Regions from separate parts of the Homo sapiens genome. Here regions 1 and 2 are each linked to region 3. The links come from fine-mapping of genetic effects on gene expression. A gene starts in region 3. Each other region holds a variant in brackets. All regions are shown on one strand. Distances are between the middles of the regions.

What was found.
Region 1: its variant is fine-mapped to the expression of RBM38 in whole blood (TOPMed, PIP 0.97).
Region 2: its variant is fine-mapped to the expression of RBM38 in monocytes (Quach 2016, PIP 0.95).

The regions. Positions count from the first base shown.
Region 1 is chr20:57,410,705-57,418,877 of GRCh38, forward strand. No RefSeq gene overlaps it. Among named protein-coding and RNA genes, the nearest start is that of RBM38-AS1, 22 kb to the left of the region's middle. RefSeq lists enhancers at 1,415-1,544, 1,645-1,694, 3,217-3,986, 3,987-4,754, 4,349-4,643 and 2 more and cis regulatory regions at 4,637-4,656, 4,645. The variant T/C (reference allele first, on the strand shown) is at 4,645.
Region 2 is chr20:57,421,186-57,429,358 of GRCh38, forward strand. No RefSeq gene overlaps it. Among named protein-coding and RNA genes, the nearest start is that of RBM38-AS1, 32 kb to the left of the region's middle. The variant CAG/C (reference allele first, on the strand shown) is at 4,459.
Region 3 is chr20:57,387,456-57,395,628 of GRCh38, forward strand. RBM38 (RNA binding motif protein 38) reads left to right here and starts at 3,941. Exons shown (of 4, transcript NM_017495.6): 1 at 3,941-4,363; 2 at 5,199-5,322; 3 at 5,824-5,878. The coding sequence starts at 4,127. RBM38-AS1 (RBM38 antisense RNA 1) reads right to left here and starts at 5,601. Exons shown (of 2, transcript NR_149006.1): 1 at 4,824-5,601. RefSeq lists silencers at 1,634-2,013, 3,624-4,023, 4,374-4,563 and enhancers at 3,658-4,159, 4,160-4,659, 5,414-5,603.

The sequences.
Region 1 (8,173 bases), 23 kb after region 3:
TGATTGAGGTGGCCGGGGTGTGCCCAGACATGCAGGCTGAGCCCAGCCAGGTCCTCCCCGGCCTTGAGCCTCACTGTGCAAGACGGTCGCAAGTGTCCTCCCAAGGCAGGGACTTTCTGTCCTACCCACTGTGTTCCTAGCAGCCGGCACAGGCCTGTGCCCAGAGGGCCAGATGTCATACACACATGCATGCAGATGTATGTTTGTGTATGTATACACGTTAACACACATTATCCCAGACCCCCATATGCACAGACACATAGACACACACACACACACTGATACAGGCATACCTGTGCATAGATACACATATCCACATGGACATGCATCCACAGACACATTAGCACAAACATGTATGTGCTACACACACACTCCCACTCGATATTCAGAGATACATGCACACAGAGAAACAGACACACACTCAGACACACCATCACACATACACACGTACACACCCTGGCTCCCACACAGTACATGCACATGCACACGGAGATACGCTTGCACACAAAATTACCTTCAAGGCACACACAGATGTGCACACACATATATACATGTGGAGATAGACGTGCACACACCCCATGTACCTACACAAAGATACACACATATGTGCACCCAGACACACATGTGCACACACGTGTTGAGTGACAGTACAAGACCCACCCCCATCGTTTGGCTCCACAACAAGTGAGGGTGTTGCGGGGGGCAGCAGCCATGGTTTTGAGGGTTCATTGGCTTGGGAGAGAGGGAAGTGGAGCAGGTCCAGGCCGGAGGACTCGGGGGGAGAAGAGACGGGCACAGTGAGGGAGTTGCCGTACCTGGCCGCTCACTTGGCTGGGCGGCAGATGTTGGCTGCCAGTGTCCTTTGGCGCGGGGGAAGACCGCTCATTGCCAGCCCCCTAGTCCTCGAAAAGGTTTCTGTCTGGACATTGGCCCAGGCTCGGCCAGTGCACAGGCAGGCAGGAAGGGCCGGGGAGCTAACACCCCAGGGCAGCCCTCAGCAGGCCAGAGGGCAGTTAGGGGATAGACGCCCCTCCCTTGCCACCCTCGGCAGTCACTCTGGGGTGTGTGCCCTGCGCTGGTGCCCTGAGTCCATGACTCCCCCTTCTCTTCACTGCCTCACGTCCTCGATCCCCTGCTGTGCTTCCAGGGATCCCCTCCTGAAGCAGCTGCCTGTGGGGTTTGCACACCCAGCTGAGACGGCCGTGAGAGACCTCAACGACGGCAGCGTGGGCCAGGCACTCAACGTCCCCGGGAGTGGGGTGCCCAAGTCCTGTGGGGCCTGGAGAAGCGCCTGCTTCCCCTTCTTCAAGGAGCTGACAAAGCCCAGAGAGCCTCAGCAGTGCAGCCAGGGCCATCCCACTAGGCGGGCTTTGCCCACAGGTTGATCCACCTCTGAGCTGTCACCCTCCAAGCAGGCAAGAGGACCAGGCCTGGGAGCAGAGGCTGAGCGCAACTTCCGGGGCACGTGGCTGCTGTGTGAGCCAGCTGGGGGCTGGGAGAGGCACGCAGGATCCAGAGGGGCCTGAGACCCCACCCCGCCCCATGGCATTGATTTGGAGACTTCTTGCTGGGGAGGGGCAGTGGTGAGTGAGAGGTGCTTCCCTTAGAGCCCCATTTTCATGCCACTTTCCAGTTGAGCAAACTGAGGCCCAGAGAGGAAAAAGGGGCTCTCCAAGGCCATTGGGCTGTCACTCCCCTTCTGGGGGTGTAATCACAGAGGGACTGGGCTGGGACAAGGTGTGGGAACCACAGCCACCGCAGCCCACGAGAAGAAGCCACACAATGGTGAGGTCACCTCCGTGTCACAGCCCTGGCTTGCTCTGCTCTGCCCTGGTGGGGAGCTTGCCTGGTTGCCATCCTCCTTGAACCTCACCTTCTTCCCTGCATGCATTGAGCTGACCCCTGGGTAGCCCCGCAGGTCCTGCCGGCCCAGCATCCACTCCCTTCCTGGTGACAGCACCTGCTTTTCCTTAGGGAGCTGCCCCCGCACCACCCTCAGGCCAGGTGGTTCAATGGAGCCACCTCTACCCCTGGCTCTGCAGCTCAAATAGTCAGCATATTCTACTCCCCTGGACCCTCAGAATGGTTCAGGGATAGACGTGTGACCCAGTGTGGGTCCATGCGAGTCAGTCCTCCTGGGGGAGGAAAGCTGTCCCTCTGCTGAGGAAGCCAAGCTGGGAGCAGATAAGCCTGAAGCAGCTGGGGGCAGAGAGGAGTTTGTGCTTATGGAGAGGCTGCCTGAGAAGGAAGCCAGCCCAGGAGAAAGGAGAGCTGAGGAGGAGAGAGGAGCAGAGATAGGGTCTTGGGGACATCTCTGGGGGCTTTTGATCCAGCTATGCCTGAAGTTAGATCCTGGACCTTTTTAATTTGAGAGCTAATACTTTCCCCCTTTTACTTAAGCCTATTTGATTTGATTTTTTTGTCCCTGGCAACCAAGACTCTGGACATATACAACCTCAAAGGGCTGGCATTACTTAGAATTAGGTTCAGCAACTGCAATAGAAAGTCCAAAATTAGGGTGGTTCTTAGCTACCTGTAATGCATTTATTTTTCTCATGTAAAATAAGTCTGAAGCAGGCAGTCCAGGACTTGGATGACAGCTCCACAGTCATCAGGAGCTTAGGCCCCTTCCATCATCCCAGTGAACCATTTCAATGCATGGCTTCCTTCCTTAAGACCATCTTGGGGACCAAGATGGCTGCTGGAGCTCCAGCCATCATGTTCAAGTGCCAGGCAGCAGAAGAAAGAAAGGGGAAGGCTAGAGTATCTCAAGCCGAGACTTCTCGAGGAGACTTCCCAGAAGTTGCACACAACATTCCTCTTCCATTTCGTTGGCCAGAACTTAGTCACATGGCCATACTTAACTGCAAGGGATGGTGGGGAATGTCGGTGTTTAGCTGGGGATATAGCTACCTGGAACACAGAAAGCCTTCTGCTACCAAGGAAGACACGGGAATGTCCTTATGCAGACAACTTGCAGTTTCTGCCTCAGGTCCTTCCAGCAGTAAGCTTTGAGTCCATGAGAGTCATGTCCCATTCATACGTGCTTTATGGAGACTGTTACTGACCAAGCCTGTTACCTCTTTACCTTCACACCAGTGGGGTGCGCTGGGTCTATCCTTATGCCCATTTCACCCAGGGGGAGATCGCGGCTCAGAGCGCTCACTGCACATGGCCTGAGGTCACCTGGTTCCTTAGGGGCAGTTCCAGGAGGACAGCTCGAGCTTCTGCCTCAGTGAGGTGTTGGAAGTTTGGCAAACAGTTCTCATCGGACATGGCTGCCCACGTTCCTACAGGACCGGCGGCCCAAGGTGCCTTCGCATTCATGGTCCTTGAGTGGGAGCTGGGCCTGGGGCCACCAGGAGGTGCCCTCTGATGTGCTCCAGTGTGCTGGCTTGGTTCCTTCTCCTTAGCATCCTCCCACGAGGAGTGGAGTCATGGTCCCATTTTACAGAGGGGAAGACAGGCTCAGAGCGGGGAGGTGGCCTGGTGAGGAATAGCTGACCCATCCAGGCTTCGGGCCCGGGTCGGTCTGCCTCCAAAGCCTGTGTTGTTGGTCTTTGGCTATGTGGCCTCTGGGGAGCTTGCGTGGAACACCTTGACCAGGGCTCAGTCCTGTCTCCTAAGCCCCACCCATGCCTCCTTCAGGGGTGCAGACCCCCAGCCTGGGCCAGCTGCAGGCAGGGCCAACAAGGGGCAGCAGGAGGGGCTGGATGCTTGGGCCACCTCAGGCGATTGACTGAGCCCGGATGTTCCGGCCACCTCAGGTGACTGACTGAGCCACGGTTACATCACCTAGAAATGGGTTAATAACCAAGGTCCTGCCTCCCAGGGCTGTGGCCGGGATTACAGGGGATGAGTTAGGTAAGGTGCCCCGTGCAGCCCTGGTGTGGAGTAGGCGCCCCTCAGGGAGCCCTCAGCCCCCACTGCTAGCAGGGTAAGCGAAGCGATGGAGGGTGGGTTTGAGAAGACCCCTGATTCCTGGAAGGCCACCCGCTGTTTTTCAGGGTGCTGCCTGAGGATGACGGACCCATGCTGCCAATCCAACAAGACAAACCCTCCTGCTTCAGTCTCCCCACCTCTGGAACCGAGGTTGTCCTCAAAGCCCCAGAATGCATGAAAACTGGCATTTATTGGAGACCTGCCATGGCTTTACACCTGTCATTTCCCTAAACTCTCCCAGCAGCCTGTGAGAAGTTGACTGTGCCCATTTCACAGATGGGAAAACCAAAGCTGAGCAGATTTGGCCGCCTGCTCCAGGCCAGAGAGCTGGACAGTGGCAGGGCCAGGGCAGAGCTGGGGGTTGGACCCATGCATCCTGAACCTGGAGCCACACGCCGCTGCACCCTGAGGACTGGGTTCTGGCCACCGCACCCATCCTCCACCTTCCTCAGCCAAAGTCAGCCGGGCGTCCTCCCCACCCCTGCCCTGGCTGCTGAGTCACACTTGTGTTTGTTCCCCAGAGACGTAAACATCCAACCAGGAGCCCCCTGGGCAGGAGGTTGGGAGCCCTCCAGATGCTGAGCGAATAACAGGGGCAGCTCTCCAGCGTGCCCCGAGGCTGGGTGTTGCATAGGGCACAGCCTGGGGTGGGCACCTGGGCTTCCAGATACCTCCTGGGCCTCCCGCAGGGGCCGATAAGTG[T/C]CTGGCTCTGCTTATCAGCCCCGTTGCCCTGCCTGCTCCCGCCTCAAGTCCTGGTGTACACATTGGGGTGCACGGTGGCCTGGAGATCATGATGGGGTGAACCACCCTCCGCCCACAGCCCGGCCCACCAGACAGCTGAGCCTGGTGCAGCAGAAACAACTCAGAGGGTTCCCGGGTGCCTCCTGCTGGCTCCCTGCTCCAGTGATGGGGGCGTTTTTAGAGAAATTAAAATAAAGATCTTTTTTTCTAAATTATAAAATTAAGACTGTTGGGGGGAAAATGTGACTATTTCCTTTAATTTATTAAAATAATCTGCATATGTGTATAAAAAGGAGTGGAAGGAAAGAGACCAGGTGTTAATGGTCGTAGGAGGACAGGAGGCTTTTATTTTTTCTTAACACGGCTCTCTATTTTTCACAGCTGAGAAATGAAAGCCAGCGAATGAGGCTTGGCGTTTGGTCATTTGCTCTTGCATCTGTGTGTGCGCACTCCAGACGCTCCAGAGGTTCCAGTGGGTGGTGTCTGTGCCCCTCTCTTCTGCTGACTTTCTGGGTTTCTCTGATAGGCCTGAGCCTGCAGCGGGGTGGGGTTGGGGTCCAGGCGCTTGTCTATGGGAACCCGCTCTGTCTTCAACCGTGTGACTCAGAACCCAGTTTCCCGGCACACACACAATCACACAATACAAGCCCTCTGTGACTCTCCACTAAATCCCACTTCCTTGCACAGCCTCCACGGCCAGGGCGAACTGGCCCTGCCACCTGTCTGATCCTGAGAGAGAGAGAGAGAGATGGAGGGAGTCACTCTCTCCTTGTTGTCCCTGAACCCTAACTCAAATGTCAGCCTTGGAGATGCCTTCTGGGACCTCCCTATCTAAGCTATCACCTCCAACCCCATCCTTGTTCTCTCATTTGTTTTTCTTTCCAAGCAGCTGTCTCTGGGATAAGGGCCTGGCCTCAGAGCGTCCTAGGCATGAGTCTGGGCTGCCTCTTCTTCCTCCTCCCTGGGCCTGACAACCTCGCTCCTGGGAAATGGGCTGAGCCTGGGGTTCCTACCCTCCCACGCAGTGGCAGGACCGTGCTCCCCAGCAGCCAGCGTGCCCTGGGATGGCTCGCCCTGCGCAGGTGTGGACAGCCTCTGCCCAGCTTGCAAGCACAAGCCCTCCTGAACCACGGGAGAGCGGAACGTCACCAAAGGCTGCTTGGCTCCCACAGGCCTAGGTGGAGGTGTGGCCCATGAAGGCCACAGTCCTGAATCTCAAGCTGAGGTTTAGCAAAAGCCTGCAAGGTAACCGGGGGCGTGGGGAGCTGTAGTCCTCATCCTCAGGGTGGGCAGGGCAGAGAAGCCTGAACTTATCCAGCACTGGGCTTGTGCCAGGCCCTGTGCCCACCACTCAGCAGCATGGGCTCATCAAATCCACACAACAACCCACTTTATAGATGCAGACACTGAGGCTCAGGCTAGTCAGGGAGTTTTCCCAGGGTCACACAGTGAGTAGCTGGCAGAGCTGGGCTCCAAACCCCGGGGGATCTGATGCCAAAGCTGCCCTCCTAACCTGCAGCTGGGGTCTCCATGGGAGGAGACAATGACCTGTATTCTGGTGTGGCCACAGGGAGAAAGGCCACAGAGCCACTAAGAATGATACTGTGGAAGTCTATTTCCCGACACGGAGAGATGGCCACAGAGTACGGTGGAAGGAAAAAAGCCACCATGAACAGAAGCTTCTCACAATGCTGGGCCCAGAGTTCCTCACAGCAGCAGTGACACCCGTGCTCTCCAGTTTGCTCCAGTCCCCACCAATCTTTACTGTGCCTCTCATTGAACCCTGGCAGGCATTTTAACTTGTCGGTTAGGAGTCACAGGAGAGCCAAGTAGAGGAGGAAGCAGGAACCGTGTACACACGTGCTTTATCCCCCTTGACGTCTTTCTAGAGGACAGTTATGCAATTATGTGACAGATGGAGGGAGGGAGGGACTGAAGAAAGGGAAAAAGAATGGGTGGAGGAATGGATAGAGATGTATGGATGGAGGGTGAATGGGAGGATAGATGGATATATGCATGGAGAAATGGTTGGGGAATGGATGGAGGGAGGGAGGGTGAATGGGAGGATTGATGGACAGATGAATGGAGAAACGGATAGAGGGAAGGAGTGTGAATGGGAGGATTGATGGATACATGAATGGAGAAATGGATGGGGAATGGATGGAGGGAGGGAGGGTGATTGGGAGGATTGATGGAAGATGAAATGGAGGGAGGGAGGGAGTGATGGATAAAGGAAGGGATGGATGGGGGGATGAATGGAAAGATAGAGATATCTTCAACCTTGGTCCCTACTCCAGCAGAGTTAGCTTTGCCTCAGGGGATGGTCTGGTACAAGGGTTAATCATTCAAGTGTTTGGAATCAGACCTGAATGTGAATCTGAGTTTCTTTCCTGACAAGCTGTGTGACCTTAGGTAAGTCACTCACCTTCTCTGATCTTCAGTTTCCTCATTATTAGAAAGGAAATAATAATACTAGATAATAATAATAATAGAATAATAATCCACATTCTATGGATTTGCCTATTCTGGACATTTCTTAAGAATGTCCATGCAATATGTGATCTTGGGGGTTTGGCTTCTTTTATTTTGCATCAGGTTTTCAAAGTTCATCCATGTTGTGGCATGTGCCAGCCCTTCTACTCCAGCAGAGTTAGCTTTGCCTCAGGGGATGATCTAGCACAAGGGTTAATAATTCAAGTGTTTGGAATCAGACCTGAATGTGAATCTGAGTTTCTTTCCTGACAAGCTGTGTGACCTTAGGTAAGTCACTCACCTTCTCTGATCCTCAGTTTCCTCATTAATAGAAAGGAAATAATAATACTTTGTAGTGCCTCCTAGAACACGAAGTAGAACAAGCACTTAGGGCCAGGTTTGAGGGAGAAGTTGAAGGTGGGCCCACCTTTATTAGGATCCGTGCTGCTGCTACGGTCCTATCAACCCTGCCCTGAGAAAGTGCCCTCTCTGCTTCCGGGCCCTTTGTGTTGAGCTGGTTAATCGCTCGGGAGACTCGATGGGTTCCCCACCTCCCCACCCCCAGCTCTGAGGATCTTGGGATCTCGCTGGACTGGTGTTAATACCAATAGCATCCCCTTGCTCACTGCCTCCAACCTCGACCGGACTCTCAGACCCCGCCCAAAGCCACAGCCGCATCTTCGTGACCATGACCTGAGAAGGCTCCTTGCAGCCCTGCCGCAGAGCAATCCTGTTATCAGGGCTTCCAGCCCTGGCTGCACCTGAGAACTGAGCTGCAGGAGCTGCTAAAAGCAATGCTGCCTGTGCCCCACCCGGAACCCAGTCTTTGGGAGAAGCGCCTGGCATGAGTATTTTTTTAAGCGCTTCTGACTGATACTAAGGCAAAGCCTGGCCTGAGAATAAAAGAAGCTCTGTGTTTAGTTTCTTTTCTTTTTAAAATGTTTCTATTTTTTCTTTACTTTTCTGTTTAGTTTCTTCGGCAGTGAAAACAGACTCTGCTGTCTGTAGTTGGATGAAG
Region 2 (8,173 bases), 34 kb after region 3:
CTCAGCCGGCAGAGACTGCCTGTGGAATGAGTGCAGGTGGAGGAGAGGGGAAGATGATCCCTAGCTGGGACCCACCCTGTGTGGGGCTCTGGAGGGAAGGAAACAGCCCTGGTCCCAGCTCCTTCCAGAGCCGCTGACCCAGCCAGGTTGCACTCTGCGGGAGGTGGCCCGGGAGCCGTGCTGCCCCTAACCTCACCCTGAAGCTGGTCCTTCCAGGAGGGGCCGCCTCCTCGGAGAGAGGAGATGCCATGGAGAGGCCAGGGAAACCGCCACGGGGCCGTGTCCAGCGCTTCTCCAGCCAATACTCACCAGAAACGAAAGAGGTTCCAGGGTGATGTGATTGGGGTCTGTCTGCCCTGCTAGACTGTGAGCTCCAGGGGCTCAGGGCCAGGCCAGGCTCTGCTCACCACCATTGTCACTCCAGTGCCCGGCACCCTGCCTGGCATGCACTTGGCACTCAATAAATGTCTGCGGAAGGAATGATGCATGAGGAGTCCTGAGTGCACAGGTGGCCCTGCTGAAACTCCTTCCCACCGCGGGGCCTTCGCACATACCGTGTCCACTGCCTGGAGCACCTCCCTGCAGGTGTTGATGTAGTGCCCTCCTCCACCCACCCTCTGACACTGCCTGCCTCCTCCAAGCGCTTCTCAGGGTTTGTGCCACTCAGTGCATTTATTCATTTGCTCATTTTAACATCTGCCTCCTTCCTGAACGTGAACTCAGGAGGCAAGGGTGTTTCCGACCCATCCATGACAGTGCCCAGCCGCCCGTCCAGTGTCTGGCACAAAGTAGGGAACTTACAATAGTTGCTGCTCATGTGAATTCTAGAGAATTTAAATTAAACGACCTTCCAAGCTTCAAAGTCAGCCGAAGCAGCATCTGCCACCCACAGTCACCTGCGTCGGGTGAGTCCTCATGAGACAGTGCACTGGGGGATAGGAATGCTGCAGACACAGACTTGGGCCCTGCCTGGAGCTGCCCTGGGAAAGGCCTGTGGGGGTGCAGCCAGGCCCCCTCCCCTGTTCCCTGCTCCTGGGGAGTCTTCCAGTAGAGTTCAGAGATGCCCGTGCGAGGGTAGGATGTGGAGGCCTCCCTCTGAGATCCTCTTGGGACAGCCTTGCTCTCCTTCAAGGGCCACAAGGTTCAATTTTGACCATATTTGCCTCAGAGAAAAACAGCCACCCCGTGGGGTCGTGGTATAAATACCAGTTTATTTACTCTGATTCTCAGCAAAGCATGCTTCCAAGGAGCAAAGGTTTCCTGCTTGCTAGTGTACAATTTTGGAAATGTGGCCCTGGGACAGGAGACTGTGGCAGGCTCGGCTAAAGGCACAGTGGGGGATGGGGTGCAGTGTCCGATTATGGGGGTGCTGCTCCACCCAGGTCACCTCACAGAGTGCCTTCCCTCCGGAAAGTAAGACAAGGAAAATTCGAGAATAGACTCCCTGGCCCTCTGCACTGGGGCTTCCGAGGCCAATTACCAGACAGCCTGGAACTGTGCCCAGGTTTTCCTTGGGGGAACTCTCCCTTCTCTACTCCAGGTCCCTGGGTCTCAGGTGAGTCCAGTTCTACCCCTGGCCCTATGGGGGTGGGCGTGAGGCCCAGGCCTGGCCAATAAGAACATTGGATGCCACTGGCCTCAGTAATGAACTCAGGAATGGGCACATCATCCAGTTAGAGCCAATGAGATACCATAAAGTTTATGCTGGGGTGGCTGGGAGAGAGGCAGGACCCCTTTTCCATGGACATTAACCTGGGGGGTTAGAGTCTGAAGCTGCCAGGATGACCCTATGGACCCTGAGCATGAGGCTAGTTTGGGGGATAGCAGGTGTGGGAAACAGAGAAACCAAGTCCCGGTGACAGTGTTTAAGCTGCTGGATCCAGCCATTCCTGAAGCCAGACCAGTGAGAGAGCAAGTCAGTTCTCTTTTTTCATTAAACTAGTGTCTTGATTTTCTATTATCAACTTATCACCAACTTAGTGGCTTAAAAAAACACTTATCTGGCCAGGCATGGTGGCTCACGCCTGTAATCCCAGCACTTTGGGAGGCCAAGGCAGGCAGATCACCTGAGGTCGGGAGTTTGAGACCAGCCTGACCAACATGGAGAAACCCCATCACTACTAGAAATACAAAATTAGCAGGGTGTGATGGTGCATGCCTGTAGTCCCAGCTACTCAGGAGGCTGAGGCAGGAGAATTGCTTGAACCTGGGAGGCGGAGGTTGCGGTGAACCAAGATCGTGCCATTGTACTCCAGCCTGGGCAACAAGAGCAAAACTCTGTCTCAAAAACACAAAAACAAAAACAAAAACAAAACAAAAAAAAACCCCACTTATCCATTATGTCACAATTTTGTAGGTCATGCCCCAAAAGGGACCTTGGCTTGAGGTCTCTTGAGGCTGAAATCAAGGTGTTGGTGGTGCTGGATTACTTACTGGTGGCTCTGGGGAAGAATCTACTTCCAGCCTCATTCAGTTGCTGGCTGAATTCAGTTCCTTGCATTTGTAGGACTCAGGTCTCCCTTCCTTGCTGGCTGGGAGCTGGGGCAGGTCTTTGCCCTGGGGGACTGCCAGGTTCCTTCCTGCACTTTCGTTTTCCTTTTTCTTTTTCTTTTCTTTTTTTTTTTTTTTTGTTAAGATGGAGTCTCACTCTGTCACTCAAGCTGGAGGGCAGTGGTGGCATTGCAGCTCACTGCCTCCACCTCCTGGGTTCAAACAATTCTCCTGCCTCAACCTCCTAAGTAACTGGGACTACAGGTGTGCGCCACCATGCCTGGTTAATTTTTGTATTTTTAGTAGAGACAGGAGTTCGCCATGTTGGCCAGGCTGGTCTTGAACTCCTGACCTCAGGAGATCCACCCACCTCGGCCTCCCAAAGTGCTGGGATTACAGGCGTGAGCCACCGCGCCTGGACCGTTCCTGCACTTTCCACGTGGCCCCACCAGCAACAGCAGGTGAGCGCCTCTCACACTCAATCTCTGCAGCTTCCCTTTTGCTACCCACCGGTCTCTGCCTCCAGCTGGAGAAAGTTCGCTGCCTTCACGGGTTTATGGGATTAGATTGGTCCCACCTGTATAATCCAGACATCATCTCCCTATCTGGAGGTTTATAACCTTAATCACATCTGCAAAGTTCTTTTGCCATATGACTTATTTACGAGTTCCAGAGATTAGGACATGGATGTCTTGGGGTCATTATTCTGTCCACCCCAGCAGTTTGACTTGGGGTTTCTGTCATTTGGTAGGGAACCCGGGAACAGCTCCACCTGGACTGGCTGACCCTTCCTGGAGAATGGTTGGACTGGATTGGCTCATGCGGCTATAAAGTTCTGGCAGGAATGACTGAATCCAGCAGCTTAGACACTGTTATAAGGACTTATATTCTCACCATTCTCAGCCAGTGTTGGTTCTGTGCCAAGGCTCTACAGGTGCCCCTGGCTTTCCCACTCTGGGTTAGTCCACAGGAAAGAAAATATAACTTGCTTCCATTGGCCCCTAAAACAAATTTAACCCTTTTTATCATGCAGGGCAGTCTTTTTGTTTTTTTGTTTTGTTTTGTTTTGTTTTGTTTTGTTTTTTTGAGACGGAGTCTTGCTGTGTCGCGCAGGCTGGAGTGCAGTGGCGCCATCTCAGCTCACTGCAGGCTCTGCCACCCAGGTTCACATCATTCTCCTGCCTCAGCCTCCCGAGTAGCTGGGACTACAGGCGCCGCCACCACGCCCGGCTAATTTTTTGTATTTTTAGTAGAGACAGGGTTTCACCGTGTTAGCCAGGCTGGTCTACAATCTCCTGACCTCGTGATCCACCCATCTCAGCCTCCCAAAGTGCTGAGATTACAGGCGTGAGCCACCGCGCCTGGCCTATTTTTTTTGTTCTAAAACTCTCCATCCTGGGTTGGACTCTGGCTCTCCCTTTGATAAGCCTCATAACCACTCAATATTTCCCCCCTAAATGACAGTGCATTAAGCCCCAAAGAGTCTCCTTTTGTTCTTTCCACAAATGACACCTGAGCTGCTCCTCTGGGGGTGGGGGGAAGCAGCAGGGAAGCAGTGAGAAGCTGGGCGTGGCTACTGTCCTCTGGGAACTCACTGCTCAGCACTGAGTTACAGAGTGTGAGGAGGGCTGTGAAGGAAACGGGCAGGTAGGATACTGGAGGGTCAGGAGGGGCCAGGTGGGAGGCAGGGCCAGCAGAGCCTGGGGAGAGGTCCCACAGTAAGGCACAGGGGAAGAGCATTGCGGAGGAGGTGGTGGCCTGTGCAAATGCCTGGAGGTTGGACATGCTCGGCTACGCTGAGGAACTGCAGGGAGGCCGGGAGGGCAGGAGCGTGGTCAGGGAGTGGAGGCTGAGGCTGCCAGCTGGGGAGGGGCCCAGATGGGGCCGCATGACTTCATATCCTCCCACCCTCTTACAACACAGACACTGCTGGCGGCTTTGGAGTGGCAACTCTCTGGGGGTTGGAAA[CAG/C]GGGTCCTGACTCCTGGCAACTTCCTCCCCTCCCCCAGCACAGCTGCACTTGACACGGAGACCATCCTAGCGTGACTTCCAGTCTCACTTGCACCCAGTCTTCCACAGAGTACTTGAGACCTCCCCGGATCTCCCCCCTAGCACCCGGGCGCTGCAGACTGCCTCCACCACACCCTGCGCCCTTCCGCTCCCAGAGGAGGGGGAGCACCATTGTTCTTGGTGGAGAAGTGGGTGCTGGGATGGTTGGCTTCGTGAGAAGGGGGAGGACAGATAGGTCCCACTGAGATGGACTCCATATCCCCTGCTTTGCACCCTAGCCTCTGAGCTATCCAGCCTTCAGACATCAGCTTCCTGCTGCTAATGGTGGTGGCATTTCAATTTTTATTTTTTAGAACGGGGTCTCGCTATATTGCCCAGGCAGGTTTTGAACTCCTGGGCCCAAGCTGTTTTCCCGCCTCTGCCTCCCTAAGAGCTGGGATTACAGGCATGAGCCCCCTTGCCTGGCCCGGTGGTGGCATTTCAACACAGAGAATGAGCCCAGCTTCAATTCCCTAGGTATTGATAGGATCCAGGAGACTGTCGTGGAAAGTCTCCCTCCCATCCTGTCCCTTCCAATTCTCTTCTCCCGAGGCGTGCAGCACCTCCAGCTGGGGACACTGAGGTCTGCACAGATGGATGTTTACTCTTCCCCGCTTCGAGCACAGGCCATTTGCTCTGCACGGCACCTGTCTCTTTCCCACTAAATGCATCTTGACCAGGCCCCTTAGCACACACGGGGCTTGCTCTTTCTTTGCCGTCAGCTGCGTGCTATCTGTGGCGTGCATGGGGCAGGTGGGGTGGGCGTTCCCATCCCCAGCGATGGAGGCAGGAGCTCTTTCAGGCTCACCTGGAACACAGTCACATGTGCTGGTCTGTCGGCATCACCTCAGCAGTGAGCCCATCTGTGGGCCGTCATTTCATCTGCACCTTCCTCCTTAGTCCTCCCACAGCACCCCCAGGAGGGCATGGTGGGATGCAGAGACACTGGATCTCAGGCCACACTTTCCTGAATTTTTCCCCAAATTCAGTGACCCAGCAGGACCTGTGCCTCCTGACGTGGTTTCACTGTTATTTCTAGAGTCTCCCAAGGGGGATCCCCTAGGCCTCCAAACCAGCCTCAGAAGCCACTGTGGGTCCTCGGAAGTCACCGTGGGTCCTTGGAAGCCACTGTGTGTCTTCCCTGCCCTCTTCCCACTATGCTCTCACTCGCCTGTGCCTGCTACCCCAAGGCTCTGGAGAAGGCTGCCTGGGGCCCCCATCCCAGGACACCAGTGTCCACACCAAGGTCTCTACCTGCAGGCAGCTGCAGAGCTCTGGCCCCTGGGAAGGTCGGGGAAGGGAGCCTCCTTCCAGTGTGCAGTCCTGAGCCACCTCCCCGGGTCCCTACTGACCATCACAGCACCCACCTCACTGCTACCCACCCCACAGCAAGGCCTCCACGGCATGAATGGAGACAGTGGGCCTGTGGGGGAGGGGGTTAGAAACAGCGTCATCTGTTCCAGCAGGAGCTGGTCATGCTGCAGGGTGGGCGCCTCTGACAACTTCACCAGCCCCAACCTCTCCCTCTAAACACATTCATTCAACCAATCTTTCCCCATTTACTTATTGAACACCAACCAAATACAAGGTCCTGGTGAGAAGACAAAGATATAAGTCATTTAGCTGGGCATCATGGTGCATGCCTGCAGTCCTAGCTACTCGGGAGGCCGAGGCAGGAGGATCACTTGAGCCCAGGAGTTCCAGGCTGCAGTGAGCTATGATTGCACCACCGCACTCTAACCTGGGTGACAGAGCGAGACCTTGTCTCTTAAAAATAAAAAAGCCATGTAAGTAATCTCTGGAATAATGTTTAACTTCAGTCTGATAAATGCCACAGTGAAGTGCTGAGCCTGCCCAGGCAGCGTCCCTGCCTCAGGCCCTTTGCACGTGCAGTTCCCTCAGCCTGAATGTTCTTCCCTTAGGTGTCCACACGGCTCACCTCTTACCTCCTGCAGGTCTCTTCATCTCACTGGCTGCTTGGTTCAAGTTGCAGCCCCTCTCCCCGGCCTGCTTGACTTTTCACCATAGCCCTTGTCACTCCTCCTGGCCTTTGCTTGCTCTAGGTGCTGCTCACTTGTTGCTTGTGTGTCATTTATGTGTGTGTGGATTGCCGGTCCCCCCAAGGAATGTGAATCCAGGTGGCAGGCATTCTGTCTGTCTTATTTGCAGCTCTTTCCCCAGTACCTAGGCAAGTCCCCAATACATAATAGCTGCTCAGTAAATAGCTGCTGAATGAATGAACCGCCTTAAGGCATGTGACCTGTTCAGTGATTCAGCAGCTCAGGAGGAAGATGTCAGGGGACATTTTCCCACCACTGGGGACAGACTCAGGTTTTTGTTTTTTTAGTTTAGTTTGTTTTTTTTTGTTTTGTTTTTTTTTTTTTTTTTTGAGACGGAGTCTTGCTCTGTTACCCAGGCTGGAGTGCAGTGGCACAATCTCAGCTCACTGCAACCTCCACCTCCCGGGTTCAAGTGATTCTTGTGCCTCAGTCTCCCAAGTAGCTGGGATTACAGGCACCCACCAGCACAGCAGCTAATTTCTTTTTTTTTCTTTTTTTTTTTTTTGTATTTTTAGTAGAGGCAAGATTTCTCCATGTTGGCGAGGCTAGTCTCAAACTCCTGACCTCAAGTGATCCACCCGCCTCGGCCTCCCCAAAGTGCTGGGATTATAGGCGTGAGCCACTGCGCCTGGCCCAGGCTCAGGTTTTTCAAAGCCTGAAATTATGTCAATTTTGGACACAATCTTTAAGAAAAAGAGATACAGTTACATGTACAGAATTAGGGCCAGGGCCTTTCCCCTAAGCTAAAACTTGGACAGCCTCAGGGTGAACCCCATGTGAGCTAACACTGAAAGAAAGACTGGCGCTGATGACAGGAACCTTCTTCCAGGCAGGGGGAACAGCCGCGGAAAAGCTTCGAGGTGGCAAAGAGCCGGGAGAGTTCTGTGTGACTGCAGCTTGGCAGGGGATCCAGGAGAGGCTGGAGGCCCAACAGGCCGGACCAGGAAGTGCCAGGTATGACATAATGTGGCCTTGGTCTCTCAGGAGTCCAGAGGGCAAGCCTGGCGAGATGACCCTTGGGTTCCAGCAGGACTGAGCCCTCTGCCAGCCAACGTTTTCCTATTCATTCCAGTGGCCCCAGCCCTCCCTGTCGGCTGCCAGGAATGTGTCACTCCTGCTTCGGGGTCCCTGCTGCCCCCTGCCCCACTCAGAAAGATCCCTTGGGGCTGGTTGGGGAGGCAGCCTCCCCCTCCTCCTCTCCCTGAGCTCTGCTCAGAATAAAAGCTCCCGGGGTCCTGGCTGAGGATGCTGTGCCCTCGCCCATCCGTGGCCACTGCCAGCCATTTGCATCACAAATGAGGCACAGTCGTGCCGTTGGGCACCAGCCTGGTGCTACCCTCGGTGACTCAAGGACACAGGCCAGGATCCAGCTGCTGAACGTGCTGCCTTGCCCCACCCCCAGCCGCCTAAACTGTGTCGCTGGGGAAGGATGCCCCGGTCCCCAGCCTGCCTGGGATCCTCCTGGCCTGGGCAGCTCTCCCCACCAGCCAGGAGAGCAACCATCGTCGGGGTGATAAACCCAACGCTGGGCAAGGAGCGCTCTGCATGTCAGGTGGGAACTCAGCACTTGGCAGA
Region 3 (8,173 bases):
CAAAGGAGCTGGGCTGCAGGCTGGGGGTGTACAGGCCACCTGCACCAAGCTCAGCCCAAAGCTGAGTCCCCGAAGAGCCTTGATATAAACACCAACACGACAAACAAAAAGAGGAGGCCCAAGAGCGCGGGGCCTGAAGACTCAAACCAGAGCCCTGCCTGGATGGGGCTGTGCTGTTTCAGATCGCAGTGGCCGGCCTCACCTGCTCCTCTCTGCACATCCTCATCAGGGTAAACTCACTCTCCCTCCTCTGCAGGGCAGCTGGAGCCACAGCTGGGAGCAGAGAGCAGGCCTAGGCCAGGCAGTTCTGCATTTGTGCCCTGCACACATCACACATTTGCGAGGGAGGCAGGAGAGGACCTCTCTGAGCATCAGTTTCCTCAGCTATATAATGGGCATCATCGTAGTCATCTCTTCCTAGGGCTTTTGTGAGATGAACTAAGATAACACACAGAAAGTGCTGGGCTCATCCTCACACTGAGCAGGAATTCTGCGTTCCAAGCTCCTGCAATTTCCATTTTCTCACCCAGCACACACAGTTGCCAGTCCTCCCTCCCGCTCCCCAGTGAGGCCTGAGGGACCCAAGTCACCTCTGCCCAGCCTGGCTCCCAGCCTAGTCTCACAAAACTGTGTTCCCTTTCCAGGGGCCCTTTGTGGGCCATGGAACCCTTGGCAGTCAGCTGATACCTAAGGTAATAGTATTAAACACTTAAAATGCTTACCAGCCAGGCACGGTGGCTCACACTTGTAATCCCGGTGCTTTGGGAGGCGGAGGTGGGAGGGTTGCTTGAGGCTAGGAGTTTGAGACCAGCCTAGACAATAAAGGGAGACCTTGACTCTACAAAAAAAAATTTAAAAAATCAGCTGGGCGCATGCCTGTGGTTCCAGCTACTCGGGAGGCTGAGACTGCAGGGAGCTATGATCACACCACTGCACTCCAGCCCGGACAACACAGCAAGACCCTGTCTTTATAAAAAATAATAATAACAAATAAAATGCTTAGATTAGCAAAGGAAAACAATCACATTAAAATATAGGCTGGGTGTGTTGGCATGCACCTGAAGTCCCAGCTACTCAGGAGGCTGAGGCAAGAGGATCAACTGAGCCCAGGAGTTCTGTATCAGCCTGGGCGACATAGAGAGACCCCATCTCTAATTAAAACAAATAAAAACGGCTATGAAAATATTTAAAAAACAAATATGTGATGTAGCAATGTAGACAAGCAATGTCTTCTTCATCAATGCGTTCAACAACAAGGTCAAGTAGTGGCGCTGATGAGACTGTAGTTTTTTTTTTTTTTTGAGACGGAGTCTTGCTCTGTCGCCCAGGCTGGAGTGCAGTGGTGCACATAAATGTGTGTTTGAGGCTGGGTGCAGTGGCTCAGCCTGTAATCCCAGCAATTTGGGAGGCCAAGTCAGGAAGATTGCCTAATCCCAAGAGTTCGAGACCAGCCTCTACACAAAATATAAAATTATCCCGGCATCGTAGTACGCACCGGTAATCCCAGTTACTTGGGAGGCTGAGGTAGGAGGATGGCTTGGAGCCCGAGAGGTCGAGGCTGCAATGAGCTATGATCGCTACACTCCAGCGACAGGGAGAGACCTTGTCTCAAAAAAAAAAAAAAAAAAAGTGTGTGTTTGGGTGAATGACTGATTGTCAGGCAGAAGCTGGTGACCCGTGGAGACATGGGGCCGCCGGAGGGGGGGAGGGATTGGTGATCCAGATACCCAAGGGGGCCCGGGGGCGGGGGGCGAAGGAGTGCGACTGGACCCGCACCTGGGCAACCGCGTCTCCAGCCTCCACGGCCCTGTCCCGCCCCCTTCCGGGCAGGCAGAGGCCCCGGGGCTGCCCTGCCGCCTGGGCCCGGCCCCCGCGGCAGCAGCCGAGCGGCCGCACCCCTTTGTGGGGCTGTCGTGCCGGGAGGGGCGCGGGCGAGGCGGGCCCGGGCGGCGCTGGGACTTGTAGGCCGGGAGCCCGGGCGCCTCCGGGCTGAAGCCCGTGGCCACGCCACCGACGCGGCTCCAGCCTGCCCAGGCAACGCGACGGCTGGGGACAGCCTTGGAAAAACTGAAGGGGAAACCGAGGCCTGGTGAAGGGATCCAGCTGGCGCAAAAGCACGCGGCCGCGCAGTGGCCGCCTCCCCCGGCCTCTAGGGGGCAAGTGAAGGTCACACTTAAATGAAAGTTTTCAAAGTCGCTTCGAAGGGCCTCCGGCTGGGCCAGAGCTTTCCCCCACCCCACCTTGTTCCATCGTGGATACACTCAACAAACATATCCCAGAGCCCTCTCCTTGCCAGGCCCTCCAGCTTGGGCAAAACATCCCAGGTCCCTGTTCTCGCAGCGCCCAAATAGCAGGGGAGGGGCTCCAGGCAGGCGAACACACAGGGCCGGGGAGGTGGGAAACTCCGCGAAGGAAGGAGAGGAAACCACGCGGGATGAAGGGCAACGGGGGCCGCAAGCGGGGGCAGGAGCGCCAGGAACGAGGAACGAAGGGGGAAGGGAGGAAAGGACGCCCAGGCTTCCGGAAGACTCGGGGGTCCCATCCCCACTGTGCAGAGGGCTAGAGCGGGAGCTGGGGGAGGGAGAGGTCAGAGGTCAAGGCTGCCGCGTGGAGCGTGGGCCGTGGAGTGGGGGAGGGGGCGGGCAGACTCCTCCCCGCCGGCAGCCAGGGCAGAGGGCTGGAGGAAACGCGGAGAACTCCTCGGTGCTGGAGGAAACGAGGGGAACTCCTCGCCGGCCTTGCGGTCCCCCACAGCCCACGGAGTGCCACTCCCAGTCCCCACAGACCCCACCTGCGTCGCCCTGTGCTGAGAGGAGGCCGCAGGGCTGGGGCCGGGAGTGACCCCAATTAGAGCTGCTGTTTCCCAGCTGCATAGGTCCCAACCGCGGGGGCTGGAGATGAGGCGGGCTTGAGGCCCCTAGTCCCGGCTTCAGAGGTGGAGGGTGTGACCCGCAGGTCCGGGATCCCGGGGTCTGTGCAGTCACACGGCCCTTCCCTTCGCTCAGGAAAGCCCGGGGCTGAGTTTCATGCTCAACCGCTGCCAACTTGAAATTCCTAGCTTTTGAATAAGGGGCCCCGCGTTTGCATTTTGCACTGGGCCCCGAAAATTCTGTGGCTGGCCCTGCCTGGTGTGAAGCTCACAGAGCCCCACTATGCGCCGCCTTTCTATGGCTGGGGGCCGGATGAGGGACCCGGGTCTGCTCTTACTCGCCCCAAGGGTCCCTGACACCAGCCCAGAACGGGGTGGAGCTGGAAAGAGCCCACACCTGCTTCCTCTGCCCACCTCATCTCCCGCGGGGCCTCTGAGACCGCCCGGGACCCGCTTCTATCGCGGCACCGTGGTGTAGCTCCCTCCGGGGTCGTATGCTGTATGTTTACTAGCCGAATTCTCAGTCCTGGACGCTCCGTGGGGCCAGGGAATATGATCTGTGCTCCGCTGCAGCCTCGCGCCCAGAGTAAATATCGGTCGGATGAACTAATCTTACATATAAAACAGAAATCATTTCCCTTTTTTAATATGGCACGTGGCTCTTCCCTAAGTCGCCCTGGGTTAAATACCGACTCAATTAACAAGATGCTAAAAACCGTTTACGTTTTTTTACGTTTTTTACGTTTAATTCACCAGACGGTGCGCTCCACGAGGGAAGGGGCCTGGCCTCCCTAGTTCAGGGTTGTGCTTAGTGCCTGCAACCGGCCGGGCCCGCGGGGGCAGCCAGGAGAGAAAGGCGCGCCCAGCGCCCCCAGGCCCGGATCCGCCCTCAGCCCGCGTGCGCTCCCCTCCCCCCTCCCCCCAATCGCCGCGCGCCCGGGTGCGGCTGGGCGGGGTTAGAACTACGCTTCCCGGCGGTCCCCGCGCGCCCGGGGCGGGGCGGGGCCGGCTGGGGGCGGGGCTGAGCTGGCGGGGGCGGCAGGCTACAAAGCCCGGGGGCGGTGCCGGGGCGCAGAGTCCCCGCAGCGCCGGTCGGGAGCGCAGCGCGGCGCACGTCGGCGCGCACGGCGGGACGGGCGCCGGAGTGGTCGGGCCTGGCGGCTGGACGGGCGCCCCTCGCTGCCCCGCGCGCTCCCCGCCGCCCCCCATGAGCGCAGCCCCGCGCGGCCCGGGTCCGTAGGCGGCGGGGCGCCCCCCATGCTGCTGCAGCCCGCGCCGTGCGCCCCGAGCGCGGGCTTCCCGCGGCCCCTGGCCGCCCCCGGCGCCATGCACGGCTCGCAGAAGGACACCACGTTCACCAAGATCTTCGTGGGCGGCCTGCCGTACCACACTACCGACGCCTCGCTCAGGAAGTACTTCGAGGGCTTCGGCGACATCGAGGAGGCCGTGGTCATCACCGACCGCCAGACGGGCAAGTCCCGCGGCTACGGCTTCGTAAGTGGCCCCCGCGCCCGGGCCCGCACCCCGCCGCACACCTTATCGCGGCCCGGGCGCCGAGTCCACTCCGGGGCACACGCCCAGACGGCCCGCTGCCGCCCCCGCCCCAGGCGCCTCCAGCCGGCGCCCGCACCTGCCGCCTCTCCCGGGCGCGCTCCTGCCGGTCCCGCCCCCACCACCCCAGGCCCCGGCCCCCACCCCCACCCCCACCCCCACCCCCACCCCCGGTTTAAAAGGAAGAGCCGCTGTGTTCAATTAGGACTCCTAAGTTGGTGGGGAGGTTTTGGAGCCAGAGGGCACTCGGGATTTCCTGGAGCAGCGGGGGGTGAGGAGCAATGGCTCCACCCCGGGGTGTTAGGAGCTCTTCGGCCTCCCCCATATTTTTAACAGCCCTCTCAGCCGCCCCAAATAAACATCAGCTTAAGTAAAAACGTCTTGAAGACACTTTCCTGCTTACCTTCCAAGCATAGCGTCGCAAACTCCTTCTCAGAGGAAAGTCTCGGCCCTCACTGGTGGGCAAGTCCAGGCGGCCCCCCAAGCTCCCTTCGGGGTTCATTTTTGCCCTATCCCCGCAGGGGATTATTTTTGTCCTTGAAGGCCACATTTCCCAGGCCTTGAACTTTGACGGGAGGAGCTGGAATCCAGGAGGCATCTTTGTGGGAGAGCCCCAGGTAGGGTTCAGAGGAGCTTTGGCTCAAGGACCCTGGGTCACAGGCACCCTCAGAGGAAGGGAAGAGAGGGGTGGCAGCATCCGGTGCCAGGGCGGAGCCGTCTGCCCCTTTCGCCCCTGGTTCCCCCCACGGCAGCCCCTGATGTGTCTCTGCTCCACCAGGTGACCATGGCCGACCGGGCGGCAGCTGAGAGGGCTTGCAAAGACCCGAACCCCATCATCGACGGCCGCAAGGCCAACGTGAACCTGGCATATCTGGGCGCCAAGCCGCGGAGCCTCCAGACGGGTGAGAGCTTGTGTTTTCCTGCCTGGCTCTTCTCGGTTTCTATATTGGGTGTCGGTATCTGTCGGGTGGAAAGAGGCCCCCCCTCCTCGCCCCAGCAGTGGCAGTCGGCTATCATGTGCCTGCAGAGCCGGCACAGGGCAGCCATCCCCCCCTCGAGGATCTAGACCCCTTCTCACAGCGTGTGGCCCAAAGAAGGGGGCGGGGGGCAGGGAGGGTACTGCACCCCAGTTGCCAGCTGTCCTCGCAGGAGGGAGGAAGTGGCCATGGGGCCTGGAGGTTGGGAGTGCCGACACCAGTGGCTGCTGACACCTGCGTCACTCACTGCCACACTTCAGCGGTGTGCCTTGGGGTTCACAAGGGGGAGGCCTGGGAGGGGAGAGGAAGCGGATGATCCCTTTTGACTAGAGGTGTGTGGCTTGTGGGATTCTGCCACCCTGTGTGCAGCCCTTGAGACGTGGCTCGTGCAGCAAGGCCAAGTCCCTGATTGTTCTCTCGTTTTAGGCTTTGCCATTGGGGTGCAGCAGCTGCACCCCACCTTGATCCAGCGGACTTACGGGTGAGTGGACATGGCTGGCTTGGGGTGGGTAGTCCGTGGAGATGAAGTGGAGAGGGCCTTGGGCTTCCTGGGTCTGGAAGGCTGGGGAAATGACAGTTTTCAGACATTTGATTGCGTTTAAGCCAAGGGAGTGAAGAGAAGGCAGATTGCACTTCTCCATCCCTGGCAGAGGCCATACCACCTAGGGGATGGTGAGCCTTGGAGCCTGCCTGCCTTGGTACACACCCCAGCTCCCTTCGCTAGGTGTGTGGCCTCAGTTTCCTCACCCGTAAAATGGGAGTGGTCACAGCACATCTGAGTTCTCTGAATGGAGGGCCTAGGGTGGGCCTGGTGCAGGTAACGCCCTCTTGAAGTGTTTGCTGATGACTCTTAGGGACTGGCAGGCTGAGTTCTTCCCCAGGCACTCCTCTCACCTGTTCTAGTGCTGGGGCAGGTGGTGGCAGTAGGTCATTGCTACCAAGGTCTGATGTTTGTGAACGTTGCTGTAGATACGATGTGTTTGGGGTGGAGGCCACCTGCCTGAGTGGCCTGGCCTATGGGCTTCTAGTCTGACTCATTTACAAGCAGCGCAGCCCACTCTTCTCCATCCTAAAACGCCTCCCACCTCCCTGCCCTTTTTTAAAACATCTAGTAAGTCCTGGCAGCTGCTTGGGGAGGGACACACACACTTAAGGGATACAAAGAGTCCTGCCTTGCGGCCTGCCTCCCCACCCCCATGATGGATGGAAGCTGTCTGCCCTAGCGCCGTGGCATATTGATGGGGTTGGAGTTGGAGGGGAAGGCAGCTCAGAGACCACCACCCCTTTCAGGGCATTGGCACTTCATGAACTTTCTGAATCCAAATCCCTAATGCCAGTTGATCACGTGTGTGTGCTCACGCATGTGCGCACCACGTAGATTCCATTGAGAGAGACACAGCTTGAGGAGTAACCTGCCTGACTGGGGCAGTGTGGACAAGGATCCTGTGGAACCCGGCTGAGCCTGGCTCCCAGGTGAATGGGTCCCCTGGGGCCTGGCTCCCAGGTGAATGGGTCAGAGGCCCCAGCAGAAGTTGCTGTGCCCACTTTTTGGGAACGCTTGGGGTGACTCGGGGGCTCCCTGCCGGCTTCCGTGTGTATTGGTGGATGTGTGCAAGTGTAGCAGTGGGAGGAGCCGCTGGCTGAGGGGTGCTGGAGGGTGGCCGGGGCCCTTCTAGCCTGTGCGAGTGGCCGGGCAGCTCAGGTTCCTGCCGGGGTGCCTCTGTCCTCCTGGGAAGGGAGCGTGTAGGGTGGTGGGAGCAGGCGGCCCTGTCCGTCTCGTCCTGGAATCTGTTTTGTAGATGTCTAGAGTCGTCTTAGAGGGTGTTTGGGGACACTGTAGCCTTCATGCCTTCACCGAGATTCTTCCTATGGGGTTCAGGCCACATGAAGAGGGTGTTCCTTGTTTTCCAGAACCTTGGCTCCATTCCCCAGGCCCACAGCAGGCGCCTGGGGGCATGGACTGGGCGGGAGCAGCTGCCCAGAGGTGAGGGTGTGTGCCTCCAGTGCCTGCAGCTCTTTTCTGCTTACAGTGGGATAAGGCCTTCCCACGTGCGTCTGGGCTCGCTCTGATCCACACAGCTACCTCTGGGACTCCATACCCATCAGTGCTTGGCCTCTGGGGCCTGCAGAGGTGGGTTCGAATCCTGACTTTGCCCCTTACCAGCTGGGTCTGTCTTGGCAGTGGCATCCTCATCCGGAAAACAGGAACATTAACTGCTTAAAACAGTGCACAGGCATGTGGGCTGGGTGCTCTGGCCTCCTCAGAAGTCCTCTCCTGTCCTCATAGCAGGCCTCTGAGGATGGGACTGAAACCATTCTTACTTTATAGATGGGGAAACTGAGGCAGAGAAAGGCTAACCACCTGTCTGGGCCTGGGGGCGGGTGGCAGGGCCAGGGTGGGGAGGCGTGAGGTAATAGACGTCCGGGAGGAGATTGGAACACAGGTGGTGGGTGCCTGAACGCATGCTTTCTTGGTGGGGGACGGTGGGAAGGGCCCTGGCCCGACCTTTCCCTTGCTGTCCTGGAGTCCTGTGAACACCACCCATCCAGAAGCAGTTGGGATCGGTCACAGAGTTTGCCACTGTGTGCCCCCGACTTCAGGCGACGGTGTTTTGTAACTAAATCTGCTGGCTGGCCATTTAATACTTGTGACGATGAAGAGGCCGCAGACTCTATTTGTTGGTTGCCAAAGGGTGGAGACCCAAACAGGGACGGTGTCAGAGGGGCCATCCGCTCTTGGCTTCCTGGGAGATCTGAACTCAAGCCTCTGAGAATC